4 separate regions of the Homo sapiens genome follow, and all the other regions are linked to region 3. The links come from fine-mapping of genetic effects on gene expression. A gene starts in region 3. Each other region holds a variant in brackets. All regions are shown on one strand. Distances are between the middles of the regions. Region 1 overlaps LOC101927189 (a long non-coding RNA gene). Region 2 has its middle 26 kb from the start of MLIP. Region 3 holds the start of MLIP (muscular LMNA interacting protein). Region 4 has its middle 13 kb from the start of MLIP-IT1.

Region 1 (5,169 bases), 120 kb before region 3:
CTCTAAAACATTGCCATAGCCTTTAAAAAATTTTTTTTTTTTGCCCTTTGTGACAGTGACAGATTTGAAGACAGAGTCCCCATACTTTTTATAAACAGGAGTCTTTGTATTTTGAATTTGTCTGATGTTTCCTCATGATTAGATTTAAGTTCTGCATTCCTGGCCAGGATATTGCATATGTGATATTGTGTGCTTCTCAGACAGCCACATCTGGAGGCACACGATGTCTATCTGCCCCTCCCTGGTGACACCAGTTTTCCTCACACAGTAGGAGTGTTGTCCTATTTCTCCAACTGTAAATAGTTACTATTTTCTCCTTTGCAAAATAATGAGTTTGAAGAGAGACACTTTAAGACCACCCAAATATCCTGCTCCTCATTACAATTTCCCCTCAGATTTAGCATCTATTGGGATTCTTACCTGAACCAATCTTTGCTGTGATGGCAACAAAATGACAAGGATCACTTCAGCACTCCCTCCATGTTTACCAGTCAGCATGTGACCTTCTACTTTAACCAAGGACCCTGCCTTTTCCTCGTGTATGGATGAATGTGTCTTAGTCTGTCTATAACAAAATACCTTATAACAAAATACCTTACACTGGGTAGTCTATATATAGTAGAAATTTATTACTCACAGTTCTGGAGACTGGGAAGTTCAAGTTCAAGGCACCAGCATATTTGGTGTCTTGTAAGGGCCCTTTCCTTATACATGGTGCTTTCTCTCTGTCCTCACGTGGTGGAAAGAGTGAACAAACTCCCTCAGGCCCCTTTTATAAGAACATTAATTCCTAATCACCTCCCAAAGATCCCACCTCTTAATACCATTACTCTAGAGGTTAAGTTTCAACACATGCATTTTGGGGGGATACATATATTCACACCATAGCAGTGTGTATTATCTGTATGAACCCACGGATTTCTGTTTCCCCACCCCACCTTCCCCCAAGTGGTATATAATTATTATCCTTATTTAGCTTGGTGCTTGGATTATCCCAAATTTGGCCAGTTGGGGTCCTTTCGAGCTGGCTAGGTATGCCTGTGCCATATGTCCATTAATCTTTGGAGCACATCCTTACCTCTGATATAACAAAATGTTCCAGGCTCATCACACTTCCCCAGCCCTGCTTTCAGCGACTTCTCTAAGAACCACTTCTCTAAAAGCCCCTTTTGGTGGGGAATGGTGTTAGAGATAAAAATCCATGCACTAGCTGTGCTGTTTGCTCCTGGAATATCTCTGCTTCTACACCTTTTTAAGTGAACAGAGCTAGGAGATATATGCATGCATATACACACTCTTACATACATACATATAAATGCACATACATACACATTATATGCACACATACATGTTTATACACATACATGTGCATATTTTAGGTATCATAAGTGTACACCAATACCTCCATTTTCAATTCATCTTTTTTGCCTTCCTCCATTCCATATTTGCATGTACCTTCTTTCACAGTGAGAGTCTTGGCTTCTAAAATCGATAGATTTACACATTTGCTCAATCTCATAATACACCTAAAGTAGTTTCAGAATGACTTCACCCATGTCTACAAAAATGCAAAGCTACTCAAAAGAGTTCAGGATCTCTAGTTTCCAGTTTTTCCATCTCCCTACCCTGCCCAAGGCTGAGGGCTGTAGGATGTGCAGTCAAAACTGTTGTAAGTTATGAAAATTAGTTATTTTTTGCCCTGCATTGTAATTATAGTATTCATTTGAAATACAATTGGGTTCATTGTTTCAGTTTCTCCCTTTCCTATCCTTGTTGATTTAATTGTTTTGGATATGTCAAGCATTAACATGCTTTCAAAAGTCAAAACTTACAGAAAGATATACTCAGAAAAGTGTTCCTCCTTTTTACAGCCCTGGCACTCTCATCACCTTCACCCTTTGTGGGTAACCAACATATTAATAATTGTTTCTGGCTTTTCATTCTGGTGAATTTTTGGTAAATATAAGATATATGTATGTTTTCTTATTTTTCCATCTTTCCTAAACAAAGATAGTGGTATTACATACAGTCTCTGGTGCTTTGATTTTTCACTTTACAAGATCTTTTGACCATCATTCCATATCAGTCCATAGAGAGCTTTCTCATTCTTGTTTACCATGACAGAGTATCCATTGTGTGTTTGTACTAGAGTTTATTCAACAGTGTCCTATGATTAGACATATAGGCAGTTTCTAATATTTGCAATTACAAACACTGCCACAATGAATAAACTTCTGGATATGTATTTTTGCAGTTGTAAGACTATCTTTAGAATAAATTCCTAGAAGTGAGATTGTTGGGTTTATGGACAAATGCATATGTAATTTTGGTTGCTATTGTCCAATCCTCTTCTGTGGAGTTTGTATCATTTTGGATCCTCAACAGCAACGTATGAAAGTGCCTGTTTCCTCACAGCCCCAGCAATGAACTGTATTGTGACACTTTTGAATTTTTCCCAATGGGATGGGTGAGAAGTTGTATCTCATTGTAGTTTAATTTGTGTCTACTATTATCAGTGAAGTTGAACATCTTTTCAAATGCTTAAGGACCATTTAAAATATCTTTCTGTGAGTTGTCTACTTATATTTTTTGCCCATATGTCTATAGGATGTTTTTCTCCTTTAATTTGTAAAAGTTTGTTTTTATATTAAGAATATCCATCCGTTATCTATGAGATATTCAATATTGCTTATATTGCAAATATTTTATCCTGGCTTGTACTTTGTTATTTGACTTTGCTTGTATTTTTTCTTTGTAAAATTTTAATTTTCATTTAGTTAAGTTTATCACTCATTTCTTCAATTACATCTGAATTTTTAGTCACAGTTAGAAAGGCTTTTCTTATAGAGGAATTCACACATCTTTTTCCCCTAGTACTTGCATAGTTTTATTTTTTACACTTTGATTCATTTTGAATTTATTTTTGTGTATGGTGTGAAGAATTGATCTAATTTTATCTTTTTCCAAATGGCTAATCAGTTGTCCAGCATGACTTATAAAAAGCCAATCTTTGCTTTAATGATTTGCAATACCAACTTTATCATATACTGAATTTTTTTTTTTTTTTTTTTTTTTTTAGATGGAGTCTCCCTCTTGTTGCCCAGGCTGGAGTGCAATGGTGTGATCTTGGCTCACTGCA[A/G]CCTCCACCTCCCAGGTTCAAGCAGTTCTCATGCCTCACCCTCCCAAGTAGCTGGGATTACAGGTGCCCACCACCATGCCTGGCTAATTTTGTTTTTTTTTTTTGTATTTTTAGTAGATACGGGGTTTCATCATGTTGGCCAGGCTGATTTCGAACTCCTGACCTCAAGAGAGCTGCCCGCCTCGACTTCCCAAAGTGCTAGGATTACAGGCATGAGCCATCACACCCAGCCTCATATATTGTATTCTGTATATAATTAAGACCTTTCCTTTTCAAGGCAATATATATAACAATAAAAAGATGAATTAAGTAAGCCCTCTGAATTAATATATTAAGTGGTCCCTCAGAAGGGAGAAATTTTGAAATTAAATATTATCTAAAGATTTTGATATTCACTTAATGGGAGTATCTGAATTAAGTGTCACAACTAAAATAGTAGAGTGGTCACATTCCCTAGCACCAGTTCTCAAACTTTGTTAAAAATGCAGATTCCTGAGCTCTATCATTAAACATTTTTATTTAGAAGTGGGGAGTGTGGCCTTCGTATTTCAGCTGCTTAACTAGTAGCACAGCGAAGACGGTATAAGGGTCTTTGGATCACTTTTTGAAAAGCATGGTCTTAGAGAGAAGGAACAGCCCACACTCGTTCACAGTGTAGCAACACGCGGGAAAGAGAACAGTCAAATTGTTTTGATGATGACGAAAGGAAATGCAGGCTTTCTAGTATATACAAAACATATTCAAAAATCTAGAAGTTTATCACTAAGGTTTTTGGAAGTAAATCTACATTTAGCAACTCAATTTTTTAGATTTTATTCTCAATTATCTGGACATGAGATTTAGGTCTGTGATTCTCAGGTCTTCTTAGTTATACATATCACTCAAGGAGCTATGGACTCCAAATGACTTATGTTTGTGATAAAGCCTCATTTACCCCACAATAATAGGAAAGCTGCTCTGATTTTCTGAAGTTAGAAATGAAAGATTAAGTAAGTACATTTGTTATAGTTTAATATTACACATTGTATGATGAAAACATTGTCTCCTACACTGCCTCCTATTATCTGGAAAATTAGTAATACTAAAGTGTTCTTTCAAAACCAGAGACCTAAATGGCTGGAAGCAATAATTGCTAGAGCTCTCCACCAAGCTTTGACTATAAATATTTGGCCATATTGTGTGTTAGAAAATATAAGACACACTTGCTTTCATTTTCTGAGCCTGACTCACTGAATTTTCTTGTCCAGATTGGTTTTCATCTGTTTATTCCTTTAGAGCATAGATTAGAGTCCATTGTGGTTCTCATCTCTGTTATGCATGTTTTTTTATGAATAAAATGCCAGGCACACAGAGCATACATATGCACATTTTACTACGAGATAGTAAAAGCTCAATGTGCTGGGACTGCATTCCCAATGTGACCTTATTTTCCCACTCTTTGCAGTTTTAAAATGTTACGTTAATCTGGCGTTCTGGACGGGGATTTTCTCTTCTTTACAGTGAGTCCCAGCAGTATATAGCGGCCATAGAATAGCTAAACTTGAAGAGGCTTTTTGGCAAAGATTTGAATATATGTCCTTTGGCCTTTTCTGGTTCTTGTCTGTATTTCATAATACAAAACTAATGAGGATTTCACTTTGGTGAAATCTGCCTTACTAAATGATGCTTGCAAATAACACATTCATTTGTTAGCATTTGGGATTCTGATTAAATCATTTTGCTTTAGTAGCTGTTAAAGATTATAGTTTGAAAGAAAAAAGTGTTTTGGCATTGAGTACTTTGAGACCCCTGTACAGTGTACCAAAATCTATGCAAATTGTTACGAGGCCTTTTAATTACAGGTGAACCCCAGCACTTATTATCATCTGATGCACAGATTATGCACATGTCATATATTGGTAATAAAATATCAAAGTTAGACTGACACTCTTAAAGTGCTTAACACTGTTTTATTGGCTTACTAGCCCTAACTGGATTCATTGCATCCATTTTTTTCATTCTGCCACTTAAAACATTTGCCACGTTGTTTT
Region 2 (5,169 bases), 26 kb before region 3:
ACTAATATACATATTAAATGTGACATAGTTTTTGTAGCCAAGTCAGATTAGGTCCTTTTTTAACTTTTAAAATAGAGCTTCCCTCAATTTCCAGGCAAAGAGTTTCTCTTAGAACACTGCTAAGGTCAAGATAGGTTAATATATTCAGATGGGATTGAAATAACAGATGCATTGCTATTTCCAGTCCAGAGTTGTTGGGGAAGCAGGGAGGAAGGAGGGCATAATTTGTACAGTGCTTTGTCATCTTTGCAGCTCATCAATATCAGCAGCTGACACAGGCAAGTGTTTGTCAATGAGTTCTATTGGCTGACACTGACCTTGCCGTTACAACCACTGCTTTCTTGACATCTGCTAGTTTGACACGTGGCACCGGATTCCATGTGCAGCTGGTACCTTGGATTTGAATGTTCTGTGAGTTCTATGACATTATTAGTACAATTCCTTGATACTGTCACCCTGTTATACATTTAACATCAATGATAGCTGTGTACTGTCTTTGTATTTCTTATTTCGTATTGCAGTAGTTATGTTTTAGGTGGCATGGCTGTTTATAATGGTATCAGACAACAGATGTTAAATTAGCTGTGGACTAATTAGCATGCTCAACTTTAGAATTGCTCCAGGAAAAGTTGATTTTACTATAACTTTATATAATGGGAAATAATTTAGGTAAATTGTTGGTAGGAATGAGTATCATGAATCTGAAAAATTGCTTTGCATTTAAGCTGCTACTTTTTAGGACTAAATTTGAGATTATATATTTTTTAATTTAAAAATAATTTTAAGTAGAACAAACTTGGGAATGTAAAAATGTATCATGATTTTAATGATTTGATCTTGAAATAGGTTTCAACATGTAATTCTAATTTCTTAACATAGTCTCAGTTATGCTTTGTGACTATGAATTACAGAAGCCACAGTTCTACTTTTTCCTCTTTGTCCTTCCTTGAACTTTTTTGCTCCCCCTATCACCCCTCCCTTCTCTCTTTCCTAACCTGGCATCCCAGTATTTGTACACTCTTTAGTTGAAGCTTAGGATTCCACATGTGAAGGTTCATTACTTATTTTTTTTCCAGTAGTGTCCCTGGAAACTATGAATTATCCACAGTAGTAATTGAAGATAACAATTTTGTTTATGGTGCTGAACATGATCACATTTACTGCTGGGTGTGTCAAGCCTACGATGATGGAATAATAAATGGGTACTGAACGTTCCTGCAACTTTTATTTGCAAGGCATTGCTCTTGCAATCAGGGTCACATTACCTAGATGTCAGTGAAATAAGACAGGGAGAGGGTATTTATTTAATCCACCATGAATGCATTCCAGAGTGACTTAATTGCTTTTCTATACCTCAAGCAGGTGGATATGTGTACATATACAATAGCTGGGAACCTTTTTAATTTGGGTTAACAAGGAGAAAAAAGTACTCTTTGCAAATTCAGGAATTATTTTTTTCTTTTTGAATTCCTCAAATAGGGAAGATTAGTATATTTTCATTGCATTTTTTAAGCTTGTTGCCCCAGGGTAGCACAGCTTTAACTGTTCCCAATATATCCCTGTTATTGTAAAGGCATTTTAATCTAAGAGTCACGGGAGCAAATGGATGGTGGATAAAAGCTTCAAAAATTTGGCCATTGTGAATTTCTGCAAAATCTTCTTCGCTTCATTTACTTTCTGTCTAAAAGTTGTATATGTCGAGACTTGAAGGCCTTTTGAGATGATTCCAGGTGTTACTCTAGGAATGTGTTCCAATTTTGTAGCAAACCTCCACTTCTTGAAGACATTTCTTGAAGCATAGATAGACCAGATTTGAAATCTACTGTGTTCACCCTGCAGGTAGTTTTTCACTAGGAATTGCATCCACGACAGGCTTTTCATCTTTAGCAAGTCATGGGCTTCAACTGAGAGTTCCTTAAATGGATAACTGAGGCACAAGGCCAGGCTAAGTGACAGTTACAACTTCATCCTTCTCCTCTCTCCTGACACCAGCCCCACCATTTCTAACTGGCTGTGGTTCCAAGTGGCACCTCTGAGAGGCATTGAGAAACATTGTGTGACAATAGTTAAGACTGCAGTGCTATGGAGTCAGAAAGACCTGTGCCTGAGTGCTACAGCTATTGCTTGCTGTATGACCTTGGGGGAGGTTAGTGAACCATTTTTAAGCATCAGAATTCCCACTTATTAATAGGGATTATAGTCGTACCTATTTCAAAAGTTTTTGTGAGGATTCCATGAGAAAGTACTTAATAAATGTCTGGCACACAGTAAACTTTGTGTTTATCATGATATCATGATTGTCTTCATCATCTCTGGTCATGTCAGAATTCTTGGGGGGATATTTGAAGAGATCATATTTCTCATTTGTAGCTAGGCTACAAGTAAACAAAACGAATCAGTGAGATTAAAGGGTGGAAGCCCAGCAGAGTGAGCCTGAACAGTTTTACAAACCCAGCTGCAGTGTCCTGTTAGAAGCCTTCAACTTGCCAAGCACAGATCCATTCCTTTGAAAAGGTCACTGTGTGAAGAGCTGCCTACCAGTGGCTGACTCACACAAGCATCTATTCACGCTCATTTTCCTACATGAATAGTTCCAGGGTTACCAGAGTTCTAGCCTCATCTCAAGGCCTTCATTTATTTATTTTCCCAGAGCAGTCTCATCAGGCTATGAAGTTCCAGCTTGCTTTATGTTGATGACTGCTGAGTCTACATCTGCTGCTCTCACTTCTTCTGAATTCTGAAGAAGAAATTTCTTAGGCTGCATTCCAGGCCCTTTGTATTCTCTCCCAGACCTGCCATGACAGCCTGAATTTCCACTGCTCAGATTTATGTGTCGTATGTCCTGGAATAACTGAACTATT[G/A]GTTATTTTCTATAAATACTCCATATTTTTCAGTCTTCATCCTCCTCACATTTACCACCTCTGCATGTGTGTTCATTGGTTCTTTATCTACATTTACTCCTTGGCTAGGTAATACGATTCAATCTCAAGGTTGTACATGCTCTCTATATCTTTATAACTTCCACATTTACATCTCCAGATGTGACTCTATGTTTAAATTCTAGGCTCATATATCTAACTCCATACTCAGCATATTTACTTGAATGTCTAAAAGACCCCTCCCACCTAAGGTGTCCACAATTGAACAGTGGTTCTTTCTCTTCTTACCCCACCTATTTATGTGTGTATGTTTAATTTTTAGTATTACTTTGTGCTTTTCTTGACTGAAATTTGGAATCAGCCATTTCTGCAAGGAAACCTCCTTCATTTTAGGGGAATATAGCATAAAGAAACCAAGATTTGGGTGCTTAATATGCTCATTGCTACTGGAGAGTGAGATCATGTCACCACTTTGCTGTGAATATTTCAATAGTTTCTCATCTCACTCAGAATAAAAGCCAAAGTCCGTTATAGTGGCTGACAAGGCCCTAGCAATCTGGCCCCTTCTTAAGAATCTTGCCACATCCCTTCTGGCTCTTCCCCAGGGTCATTTTCTCCAGCCACACCAGCCTCTGTTCTTCAGGGATGTCAGATAGCCTCCTACCTTTGGTTCTTGGCTTTTGCTGTTCTCTCTTCTTGGAGTATTTTCACCTAGATATCTGCATAATTTATTTCTTCACTTCCTTAAATCTTCTTCTTAAAAGTCACCTCCAAGGAAGCCTTCTCTGTCCAACCTATTGAAATCTATTGTGCTCTCACCTCCATCTTCTGCTACTCCCTGTACATATCTTCCATGCTTAGTTCCTTCTCAGCACGACCACAATATTCTAAGATATTATGTAACTTATTTTATTTATCATCTATCTCTCTCTTCTAAAATAGAGGTTACATGAGGGCAGGGATTTTTTTGTGTTCAGCTCACTGTTGTATCCCCAGGATCTAGGATAACACCTGGCACCTAGCCAGTGCTCAGTCAAGATTTTTTGAACAAACGATGAGTAAATGAATATTATGATATATGGAAGTAGGGAATGGTTTCTGGAAGTCTATTCTAATATGGCATCAAAGCCAAAACAACAACCTATAGCTGTGCCTCTTCTGTGACTATGAGCGTAGAGGGCAAGGAGGTGTTACAATATCTGCCTTAGGTATGTAAACTGCTGAAGAGGTGGAAGTTTCACATTTATAGCAAATAGCCTTGGATTCAGATTGTTTGTCTTTATCTATTAATGAGTCCATTCTGATGACTCAATGACTAAATTGAAGTGGGTGGTTTCGTAGAGGGAAAGTGTTTCAAGAAAAAGAAATGTTATTTGATGCAAAAAAGAAACATAAAAAAACCCACAGAAATCAGGGATAAAAAATAGTGGCAAAGAGGAATGAATCTAATAGAGGGGCCAACACATTTCCAGTAAGTCAGGCTATCTTTGAAAGCTTGGTGACTCCTTACTTGCATGCCTTCTCCTTCCTCTGGGGGCCACTGCCCTCACATGTGTGAGGGGCCATGAGAAGGAAGAGGATCCAAGCTGTGGACCTGCATGGGTTGTGAGAACATTACTTTGTCTAAATAAAATAAAGTAGATTTTGCTTGGGTGATGCTGCCATTTACTGAACTGTTTAAGAAAAATTTTAAAAAACAAAATACTTTAAGATGCTTATGGGAAAGATACTCTTTTTTTTTTTTTAACTCCTCCACTGTTTGAGATTCTTGCTCTTTGCCAGAAGATCCATCTGCCAGGCAGCGATCAGGCTTTCTGAAGAGCCTAAAGCTCTACCTGGGGAATGTGTCCAGAGGGAGAACACCTGGGCAGGCTGAACCTACTCATGATTTAGTGCAAGTTACTGAGCTAAACAGCTTCCTTTTGGAGTCTTCAGAAACGGCCATGGTATCATTTTCAAGTTAGCTCTTGTTCCCAAAAGGAAATTTGCATATTCTTATGCTTATGTGTTTTCCAAACTTGACACATTTAGTTTATGCAAGGTGGTTTCAGAATTGAAGTAAAATAGTTTGTCTTTTCTGAAGAACAAGCCAAGGAAAAGAGAGAAACTTATGCTTAGGTCTCTGAGGCCTCAAACTTCCTGAATATGTCAAAAGTCAGATGCTGGAGGTTCAGGGTAGGAAGAAGTGAGGGTCTGGCCTAAGTGGGAGCACCAATGGATAAATCAAGGCATACAAATATAGTAACTTATGAAATTATTGACTTATTTTACCCTTCTTTGCTTTCCCTGA
Region 3 (5,169 bases):
TACTTGCCTTTATTCTCATTTATGTTATTTATAAAACTAGAAAACAACAATACCCACAGGAGTAACGTGTATTAAGAATCTGCCTGGCACAGAGCTAAGAATCTGTGGAAATCTTACATGCTGAATTTAATTGTAATCCTCACAAGAACTCTGTGAAATGAGAGCTATTCTCATCCACATTTCACAGGTGAGAGGACTGAGCCTTTAAAAAGTTCAGTAACTTGTCTGAGGGCCCACAGCCAGTGGATGATGTGGCTCCAGGGTCCTGTGCTTTATGACTTACTGCTCTTGCTGTCCCGATAGGTGCCTTCAATCCAGCCCTCTCTCTTTGCTTGAAATACTTGCTATTCCATCCCACCTTCATAGTTTCCCTTTCCCCGTTCTTCTAAGTGCAGCCCAAATGCCACCATCTTGAATTACTGCCCTCCAGGTGGCTGTAACATCGTTCTCTGAAATTCCTCTGTCTTTGCTACTCAAAGTGTAACACACCAGCAGCAGATCTGGGGTGTGGCTCCCAGGGCATCTACTAGGAGCTTCTTGGAAATGCAGAATCTGAGGCCACATCTCAGATCTCCACACTTAGAAAGTGCATTTTAACAAGCTCCCCAGGGGATTTATGTGTGCAGTAGTTTAAGAAGAACTGCAGTATAGGGCTTTCTTTTCTTTCTTTCTTTTTCTTTCTTTCTTTCTTCCTTCCTTCCTTCCTTCCTTCCTTCCTTCCTTCCTTCCTTCCTTCCTTTCGTTTTTTCTTTTTCTTTTTTTTTTTGACGGAGTCTCGCTGTGTCGCCCAGGCTGTAGTGCAGTGGCGCGATATTGGCTCACTGCAAGCTCCGCCTCCCGGATTCATGCCATTCTCCTGCCTCAGCCTCCCGATTAGCTGGGACTACAGCTGCCCGCCACAACGCCCGGCTAATTTTTTGTATTTTTTAGTAGAGACAGGGTTTCACCATATAAGCCAGAATGGTCTCGATCTCCTGACCTTGTGGTCCGCCCGCCTCGGCCTCCCAAAGTGCTGGGATTACAGGCATGAGCCACGGCGCCTGGCCAGTATAGGGCTTTTTCTTGTTTTCTTTTTTCACTTTGTATCTTTGTTATTTGTTTACCTGTTTTATATTCTCAAACCATTAGCTTTTTGAGGGCAAGAGGCACTTATATTCTCTTTTGAGTATCCATAAATATGTGTAAAATAGAAGAAGGCTCATAGTTTTTTTTATAACACGGCACTTATATTCAGAAATTTAGATCATATTCTAGGTCTGTGTTGTTTGGAATAGTTCCTCCCACTGTGCTAATAGAATCACTTATAGCAATTATTTTACTCATTATGTTTCCATAATCTCAGGCTTTTGATAACATCGAAAATGTGAAGAGGCATAATCTAGGTTTCTAAAATAGTAATTCCTTCCCATAGCCTTTGATCTATATCTAGTCCTTTGGATACAACACTTTTCACTGCCAAAGCACAAATGTAGATATTACAGATTTGGAGAAAAATCAATACTTAGAAAATAGAAGTACTGAAAGCTGAAGACTCCAATCAATTTCACATATGAAGTTTTAAGGTTTGTCTGCAGTCAGGATTCTCACTGTCTTCCAGGAACCTTGGAATGAAATTCTGTTTTGACAAGGATTTGATTCCAAGCTTTATTTTAGAGGTGATTTTGTTAATAACATAACTTCAGTCACTACAGATGCTCCTGTATTGTTGCTTACAATTTATATACTAAGGATAAAGTTACTGATATTTTGAAATAACTGTGTGTTTTCTAGTTCTTTATTTGGACACAGTGTTTGCATGTATTTATACCTCTAAATGTTCTCTATGAGCATGACCAACTGATTATTGAGATTGGCAGGTGCTAGCGCCCTTCAATCAGCTTCTCATTGCTGCACAATCTGGCTTTTCTCTTCTTTTCACAGAATATATAATTGGAATACATGCATGAAAAGAAAAGAGGGAAAACACATATCAGTGGCTTTTTTTCTTTTTCTTTTTCTTTTTTTCACTTCTACTGATTCCATTTCAGCAGTTAGTATGACCTCTCATAATGTTCCAAATCTAAAAATTGTCAAAACAGAAATCTACTCTTCGGAGCTGACACAATTCCTCAATTTTGGAATGACTCTGCTTTACCTCTTTTTAGAATTTCTTCTTTCTGCGTGAGTGTGTGTGTGTTGTTTTAGTATGAGGCTCCCTTCCCACCTCAGTCATTGGTTTGCTCGCTCCCTTATGTGATGAATCAATGCTTTCAGAACAGGGGCTTCTGAGTGACTGCGGGAACAATTACTTCCAAATGACCTCGTGCATCTTATCAGGGAGCATTCAGACCACACCCCAGGTAAAAGGAAGTCTTTGCTTAATGCTTTCAGTAACTTTTAAAAGCAGTGTACGGTGCTGGTGGTATTTGCTGCAAGGATGTGAGGGAGAGCTGCCCAGTGAAGATAAATTTGTATGTATATTGAAATGAAATGCTATCTTCACTTAGAGAAAAGGGTGAGCTGATAAAGACAAAACTGCTCATTGGGCAAAGAAAATGCTCAGGATTGCCCTTGGCACAGTGATAATGTAAGATACCCTGTAATGCCTTAACAGGAGGCTAGAGGCCATCTGCGAGTGTGGGTGTCAACATCTGAAGGAAGAGAACTTTTAGGGAAATATAAGAAAGGAAGGCATTACAGCCCAAAACTGAGCAAAGGAGCTGTTAGCCTGCGTGGCATGCGGGAAAACAGTTTCTCAAATTATTAGGCTATCCGGTGAGAAGATGACGTTCTTAGAGATTTTGAGCATTTCAAAGTGTATTTAGAAAAAGATTTTAATCCTTTTATCTCATATTTCTATGACTAAATTAGTTTCCCAAGGATAGAAACTAAGATATTTAAATAACATTGACAACTGAAAGTGTTAATTGGCAATTAACAAGTGCAATGCTGTTAACATGCATCTGTTGCTGCTTTGTGTGGAAAATGGTTTTTCATCACCATAGCAATTCATTCTTAGGCTACATTGGAACTTAGCCACAGTATGCAGTAAACAGCAAATATTTTTTTGTTCTCTCCTAAACAAGGGATTAAATAGTCTACTGGCTAATATGTGGCTCTTTATCTGAATGTTGCATTGCATAGTTGGTGTAATTTCAAATTCTTTTCCAACTGAAATTCCTTGTGAATGAGTATTAGATCCTTGGTAAGTTAAGGATGCTAGGTAAAGGTGGTGAAAAGAGCTAATATTGTACTGTTAGCTTAAAAGCGAATACCAAATGATTGCCCTTTTTGTGATTATTCTTCTGAAGATATGTATGTGGACAGGAATTTATGTCTGATCTTGTTATTCTCCAACAGTAACTCAGGAAGATGAATAAGTCTTTAGTTTTATTAGATTTCCTGTTTCTGTGTTTTCTGGAATCACATCATGTACTGGTTCAACTAAAATAAAAAAAAATTGTTTCCTTACACTGGTGAGAAAATTTTATGTAGGATATGGATGTTTCTTTAGGAAAATATAACAATAAATTAGAAAGAAATAGGTTTTCTTCTTTTCAGTTGCCTTTATTGTCAGGATGTGGTTATGTTTAGAAATTTTTTAGGCAGTACCGTTGTAAAAGCATACCTTATTCATTGAAGCATCAGTTTTCATTCATACTTTGTTTCTACTTTATTCACTGAAAGTTATAGCTGTCAACTTTTAAAAAGTTCATAGCATGTGACATACCAGTTGTGGAGCTGTATTTGTATCTTAGATACTTAAGTAGCATTGAATTATACAAATTGTGCAAGGTGTTTGAAGAAATAAATTTTCATCATTATATATGCTTTAGAAGGTAAAGCTACTTACTGCTTATAATGGTTATATGTATTTTGTAACCATGGGGTGCTTATAATGAAGACTTTCATATATTATTTTTTAAATTTTATTTGGATGGAACATAAGATAGACCTATAGTCATGACATGGAAAGATAAGGGAAGGCCTAGTTACAGAACCTGGGGACAAAGTTGCAATTTCACCTCTTTACTCCTAAAGGATTATCTTTATTTCTTACTCAAATGAAATTATGGGATGGATTATTTGAACTACTTCAGTAATTTCCTTGCCAAAACCACTCTCCTTTCTATCATGATATTGATGAGATTAGTTATGTGATGAAACAGCCCTAGAAGATAATACATCTAGAAGGCCTGTTGTATTACGTATTGTTGATAGATAAGTGGGCTCCTTAAATCTCACAAGGGATCCTTCCTACAATATAAAGCACTGATTTATTACTTTTTGATGATAAGGTATTTTGACATGGATACAATGAGGAAATAATGACACATATCTTTAAAGGCGAAAAGAATATTGAAAATTAAAAGTTTTTAAAACCCTGTCAATATTCTTGTCTCACAGTTCCTTGATCTTCACAAGCTCAGTGCCCTTCCTTTCATATACTCAGTCTTAATGCCAAAGCCTGGAATTTAGAATCATCTGGAATTATCATACTTCTAATTATTAAATTAATAAACTCTCATATCATATTATGACCCCATCCATTCTCTCAAACAGTCATCATAGTATCAACTCTGTTTCCTGAGCACAGAGACCTCTAGTTCCTTCAACTTGAGGGTTCTTCCTCCTTACCTATACAAACTGAACTCCATGGTCAATCATTTGCTCTACTCTCACCAGTACCCTTAATTTCCTTATACTTGCCACATCCTGCCAAAACCAGCAAAGCATTCCTTGAGAGACTATCGAACAGCCAAGCAAATTGCCTCACTGTTCCTGGATTTATATTTGGACTGGTTCCTCAGTGTAGACTGTGAGAAATTTTGTTTCTGGTCAGCCCTCTTTCTGACTACTGTCAGTGATGTTTCAGCCTTTTAAAATCTTCCTTAAAACGCCCAGGCCACCTTGGCTAGTTCTTCCTCAGCTGGTGGATCACTCAATGTTAGAGTCTGTAGGGTTTGGCCTTAAGCCTCTTATTTTTCTATTTGTGTTTACATCTTTATTGATCTCATCTAGTCTCCTGGTTTTAAATATCATCTATGGGTTAACAACCCTAGTAATTTTATCCCCAGCACAGAATTTCCTGTAAACTTGACTCATACTCACATTTCCACTTGGTTGTATATTGGGCACACAAAATTTGATCGTTATTCTCAAACCAGCTTCAACTATTGTCTTCCCCAT
Region 4 (5,169 bases), 100 kb before region 3:
ACACAATGGATGGTTTTGGTCGCTTGGCAGGTGTTAACCCAATGACCACAACCAAGGAGGATTTACCAAGGGGATTTTTGTTACTTGCAACAAGTAAGGAGAACACTGGGGATAGTTCCCAAAGCAGTGTGTCTCTCCAAAGGAAGATGAGAGCAGGGCTTTCATTAGGCTGGTTGGCTTAGTCATTGTATGAAAGGCAGGGTAAAGGCAGTGCAGGCACAGTCCTGATCATGCTTCTTCATATATTGCAGGTATAGAAAATGGTGAATAAGCTCCTCCCTAGGTGGGGTTTTTAAGTATGGTAATAGGGAGAGTTCACCAAACTTCATCTCCAACTCAGGCACCTCTGGTTTTACCTGGTTTTTGTTTTGCTATAGCTGGGCTTCTTCCTGGAACCTTTTGAAACAGCAGAAACTCAGTGTGCCACAGTTACAAGTTACTAGGGAACCCTGAGTTACAATGTGAATGATCCCAAAAGGCAAATAAATTGTGATAGCTTCCTTCTTTTAAAAATACACTATAGAAGGCAGGTGGGATGATTTACAGGGTGGGATGACAAAGCTAATCTGAGATGATATATTTTCCACAGATAATCAAGTAAATGAGCAATAATTTGCTTTTCAAATTCTGAGTCTCTTCCCTGGCTATGCTTTAAATGGGACTTCCACATGGGCCATAGCCCAAAGTTGGATCCCTTTGCACAGAGGCTAGACATTGAAGTAGTGGCCTTTGGGGTAACGCAGACTCACTTCTGTTGAGAGTAATTAGCGAAGAAAATTTGTGGGAACTGAGGAAGGTTCAGCAGAAGTCTGCCCTCTCTGGACATTTTTTGGTGGCTGGGAAGCAGGGCAATTGTCCTGCCTGACTGTGGAGTTTGTTCAGCCTTGTCATGGACATCTATTGCATAATTCCGACTTTCCTTCTCTGGAGTAATGGACATTTCACTTCAGAAGGACTTTTAATTTTACTTAAAAAATCCAGTCAACATAATAGAAGATAAATTCAATTTTCAGTAACATTTTACTCTGTTACCACTTATGTCCTTAGGGAAGCTTAAAGAATTTTCATCAGTACACTAAAAATTAGATAGTTGGATATGTTGCAAAACTTTCAACACTTGACTCAAAATTCCCACTATTGCTAAGACATTCTTATAAAGAAATATTTTGGGGGGAACTTAGCAACTACGGTTCTTGTGAAGTGGTCCCAGTGGGAATGAGGTTTATGCCAAACTCTTTTTTTAAAATTTGGTTTCTGCCTCTTGTGCCTGGTATCCAGTATTAGTTACAGAGTAAACAGTATTTTCCGAAGACTGACAGGGTCAGCTGTTCTGGGAATGTGGCCGTTGACCTCCCTGATGGATTACTGTCCTGCAGACTGCTTCCAAGTCAGTAGAAAGGTAAGCATTCTTTCTGTATAAGTGCAGATTGCTTTGGAACATGTTACAATTTCAACTGATAAAACTGAAAGTACATTTTGGGCACACTGTCTCAAAGGGCACCGAGCTGTTACTTTGGGGGCAAAGTGATTTATCATGTCAACACAACCATGACAGTTAAGCTGCTGGGTTTGGGGGAGGGGTGAGCTAGGTGTTGAATCTGGTTGTATTGATTAAGTCAAAAAGACCCAGAAAAACTTAAATCCGGAACTCCTTTCCAAAGTTAGAAAGACACATTGTAATTCTGCTTCTGAGTCCTTTTCCCTAAAATCCTGTCAGTTCACCTTGGTTTGTTGTCTTTACTCCTGAAATAGCAACGGTGTGTGTGTGTGTGTGAGAGAGAGAGAGACAGAGACAGACAGACAGACAGACAGAAAGTGGCTACTAGGAACTACTAGGAAGTGTATCGACCGTTGAAAGGGCCTAGAAATATATTGACTGCAAATGCAAGAGCAAATCCTGTTCAACCAAGTACCTCTGTGGATGTAACCATGCACAAGAGAAAATAAATTGAAAGCCCCTTGAAAACGTGCTATTATATAGTAGTTGAGAAAACGGAACATGCTGGACTTGATTCTCAACTGATTTTAGCCAGTTTGTTTTACAGACTCTGAAGGTATGAATTTAGTTTTATATCCGAATTACTATTGCTA[T/C]GTAGAAATTGTCACCAATGTTAATAGCAGTAGTTTTTTAAAACCTCACATTTTACTTTTCAATAAGTTTCCAATAAAGGAATTGCATTTTTTTAAGATGGTGCACAAATTAAAAAAGCACTTTTCAAAGTTCTTACAGTTCTCACTTGATTCAAATATTTTCTAATGCTTCAAAAAACACTCTGCCTCAGAAGTAATTTTAGAAAGAACATGTTTTCTCCCTTAGATGGACTAAAATGTATTTTTTATAGTCATTCAAAAAATATGGCCCAGAACCAAAATAAGGGGACAACCAGTATCAGAAGAAGTTAAAAAACTTACATTCCAGTAGAAATAGTTTATGTTTCACTGAAGAACAGTAATTACAAAGGTACAAGTTTGTTAAGCTGTCATTATCATAATTATCATCTACTGATATTTTGGGGTTGGCTTTTTTATCTGCTTGGCAGCTTCAACTTACAAACAATATTTGTTGTATAGTGACGAATTCAACTTTAAGAAATTCCTCTATAGACATTATCTTTTCACAAGCTCTGAGTACCCACCACAACTTTTAGAACTCAGTACTGCTTGCCTACAGAAGCCATCACGGATGCCTTAAAAAGGGTGGTGATGGGAGGTTAAAAGTCTTCCCGTAGAAGAGTTGACAGCTGCTCCTTAAGAGTTTGCAGCTGCCAAAGCTGATAAATAGATTCAGGTAAGGATGCTGAGACAACCAGAAAGAGCTGGGAACCATTCTCTCGCTTGCCTACAGCCACCTCCCTCCCCAATGCTGTGACCACCAATTGGAACACAGCTTTCTAGAGACAAAGGCATAAGCTCTGAACTAAGAGCAACACCAACAGATCAGAAGTTAACTGTTTGAGATCAGTGCTCAATGCTGGGTCTGAGCTACATTTGGATTAGGCCCTTGGGTACCTGAAGCATGTGCTGAGTATAGTATCCTGGTCCATCACTAAATGGGTGTGGAGATTACGTGGGCTTCTGAATTGATCAAGGGGGGAATAACGGACTCATGTTCTGGATGGGCTATGTGGAATGATAAGAAACCTTTATAAAAGCATCAATTGTCCCAGAAGATGACCCCTGTCTTAGTAAAAAGATATTTATCCTTGGAGCATGTAATGGGGAAGATTCTGGGTTGTCTATGCCATGTTTGGCAGATTGTCATTCTTTCAAAAGAAAACAGCATTTGTTTTCATTCGTGCCTTGTCTACCTTGTGAGGTTTCAGCAGTAGAGCACCTATCTGTGCTTTTTTTGTGGAGAAGGAAGTTTTTTAAATGGCAGGTGAGGGAAAATCACCACAATTAAAGTTAATTTACATTTGGATCTCTGATCCAGTAAATGAACAAGCAATTTTAATTGCTGCAAGTTCCACTTTCCCCCAGTTTTTGAATACAGGCACAAATTCATCAGGCACTTATTTGGGAAGCAGGTGTATTGAATGCAAAGGAATGAAGTGAGGTGGCAATATCTTGAACCAAATATTATGTGCCAGCGGTCATTTGTTTCCATTTTGAATGGAATTCTTGCTTGGTTACTGCAGTTTACATTTTAATTTCCTGTTTGGAGGGACCCTATGTGTGTAGTATATTCCTGGGAAAAATAATAAATTTCCAGCTTAAAAAGGAATTACAAATCTTTCTTTGTCAATTTTTTTTAAAAAAGTAATAGCCTTCTTAATGTATAATTTATATGCTATAAAATTTATCCTTTTACGCTGTACATACACTTTGGTGATTTTTAGTATATTTTCAAAGTTGTACAAAATCATCACCAATGTCTAATTTCATAACGTTTTCATCATCCAAAAGAGTAACTCTGTTCCCGTTAGCAGTCACTCCCTGTTCTGCCTTCCCTCCTACCACTGGAAACCACAAATGATCTTTCTCATTCCATGAATTTGCCTATTCTGGACATTTTATGTAAATAAATCATGTAATAGGTGGTCTTTTGTGACTGGCTTCTTTCACTTATTGTATTTTCAAGGTTCATCCATGTTCTTGCATGTATTAATACTTAATTCCTTTTTATTGCTGAATAGTTTTCCCTGTATGGATATACCACATCTGTTTTACCATCCATATACTGATAGATATTTGTGTTTTTTCCACTTTTTGACAATTACAAATAATGCTGTCATGAACATTTGGGTAGAAGTTTTGTGTGGACACATGTTGTCACTTCTCTTGTGTATATACCTAGCAGTGGAATTTTGGGGTAATATTGTAATTCTATGTATAGCATTTTGAGGAATTGCCACACTGTTGTCTAAAGTGGCTGTGCCCCTTTATGATTTCAGGAGTAATGTAAGAGGGTTTCAGTTTCCTCACATCCTTGCCAATGCTTGTTATTGTTTGTGTTTTATTTTAGCCATCCTAATAGGTGTGAAATGTTATTTCCTGGTTTTGTTTTGTGCTTCCTAATCACTATGATGTTGAACATCTTTCCATGTGCTTGTTGGCCATTTGTTTTCTTTGGAGAAATGTCTATTCAAATCCTTTGTCCATTTTTTTACATTGGGTTATTTGTCTTTTTATTGTTGAGTTGCAAGAGTTCTTTATGTATCCTGGATACAAATCTTTTATCAGATAAATAACTTGCAAATATTTGCTCTTATTTTCTATTTCAGTGGTTTCCAACCTTTTTGCTTCCCAGAAGACAATTTTTCCACAGATGGGGCTAGGGGTGGGGGATGGTTTCTGGATGAAACTGTGCCACCTCAGATCATCAGGCATTCGTTAGATTCTCGTAAGGAGCATGAAACCTGGATTCCTTACATGCGCAGTTCACAATAAGATTCACGCTCTGATGAGAATCTAATGCTGCTGCTGATCTGACAGGTGGTGGAGCTCAGGTGGTAATGCTCGCTCAGCTGCCACTCACCTCCTGCTGTGCAGCCCATTTCCTAACAGGCCACAAAGTACTGGTTCATGGCCCAGGGGTTGGCGATCCCTGGTCTAGTTAATTTTTTTGCCACACTTATTAGGGTTTGGATAGTATCTTTGAAGTCACCTTTTTCCTACATAAATGTCATGTCGACCAGGGAAAAAATGTCACACGCTTTTACTGAGAAC

Evidence for each region. PIP is the estimated chance that this variant, and not a neighbour inherited with it, causes the effect.
Region 1: its variant is the best candidate, but not a certain one, in a credible set for the expression of MLIP in esophagus mucosa (GTEx, PIP 0.72).
Region 2: its variant is the best candidate, but not a certain one, in a credible set for the expression of MLIP in subcutaneous fat (GTEx, PIP 0.54).
Region 4: its variant is the best candidate, but not a certain one, in a credible set for the expression of MLIP in cerebellum (GTEx, PIP 0.58).

Annotation. Positions count from the first base shown.
Region 1 is chr6:53,991,711-53,996,879 of GRCh38, forward strand. It overlaps LOC101927189 (a long non-coding RNA gene), which reads left to right. Exons shown (of 4, transcript NR_125842.1): 3 at 3,080-3,154; 4 at 3,254-5,169. Among named protein-coding and RNA genes, the nearest start is that of MLIP-IT1, 4.6 kb to the right of the region's middle. The variant A/G (reference allele first, on the strand shown) is at 3,140.
Region 2 is chr6:54,083,206-54,088,374 of GRCh38, forward strand. It overlaps a transcript of MLIP not described here. Among named protein-coding and RNA genes, the nearest start is that of MLIP, 26 kb to the right of the region's middle. The variant G/A (reference allele first, on the strand shown) is at 2,862.
Region 3 is chr6:54,109,237-54,114,405 of GRCh38, forward strand. MLIP (muscular LMNA interacting protein) reads left to right here and starts at 2,207. Exons shown (of 14, transcript NM_001281747.2): 1 at 2,207-2,339. The coding sequence starts at 2,244.
Region 4 is chr6:54,009,658-54,014,826 of GRCh38, forward strand. No RefSeq gene overlaps it. Among named protein-coding and RNA genes, the nearest start is that of MLIP-IT1, 13 kb to the left of the region's middle. The variant T/C (reference allele first, on the strand shown) is at 2,092.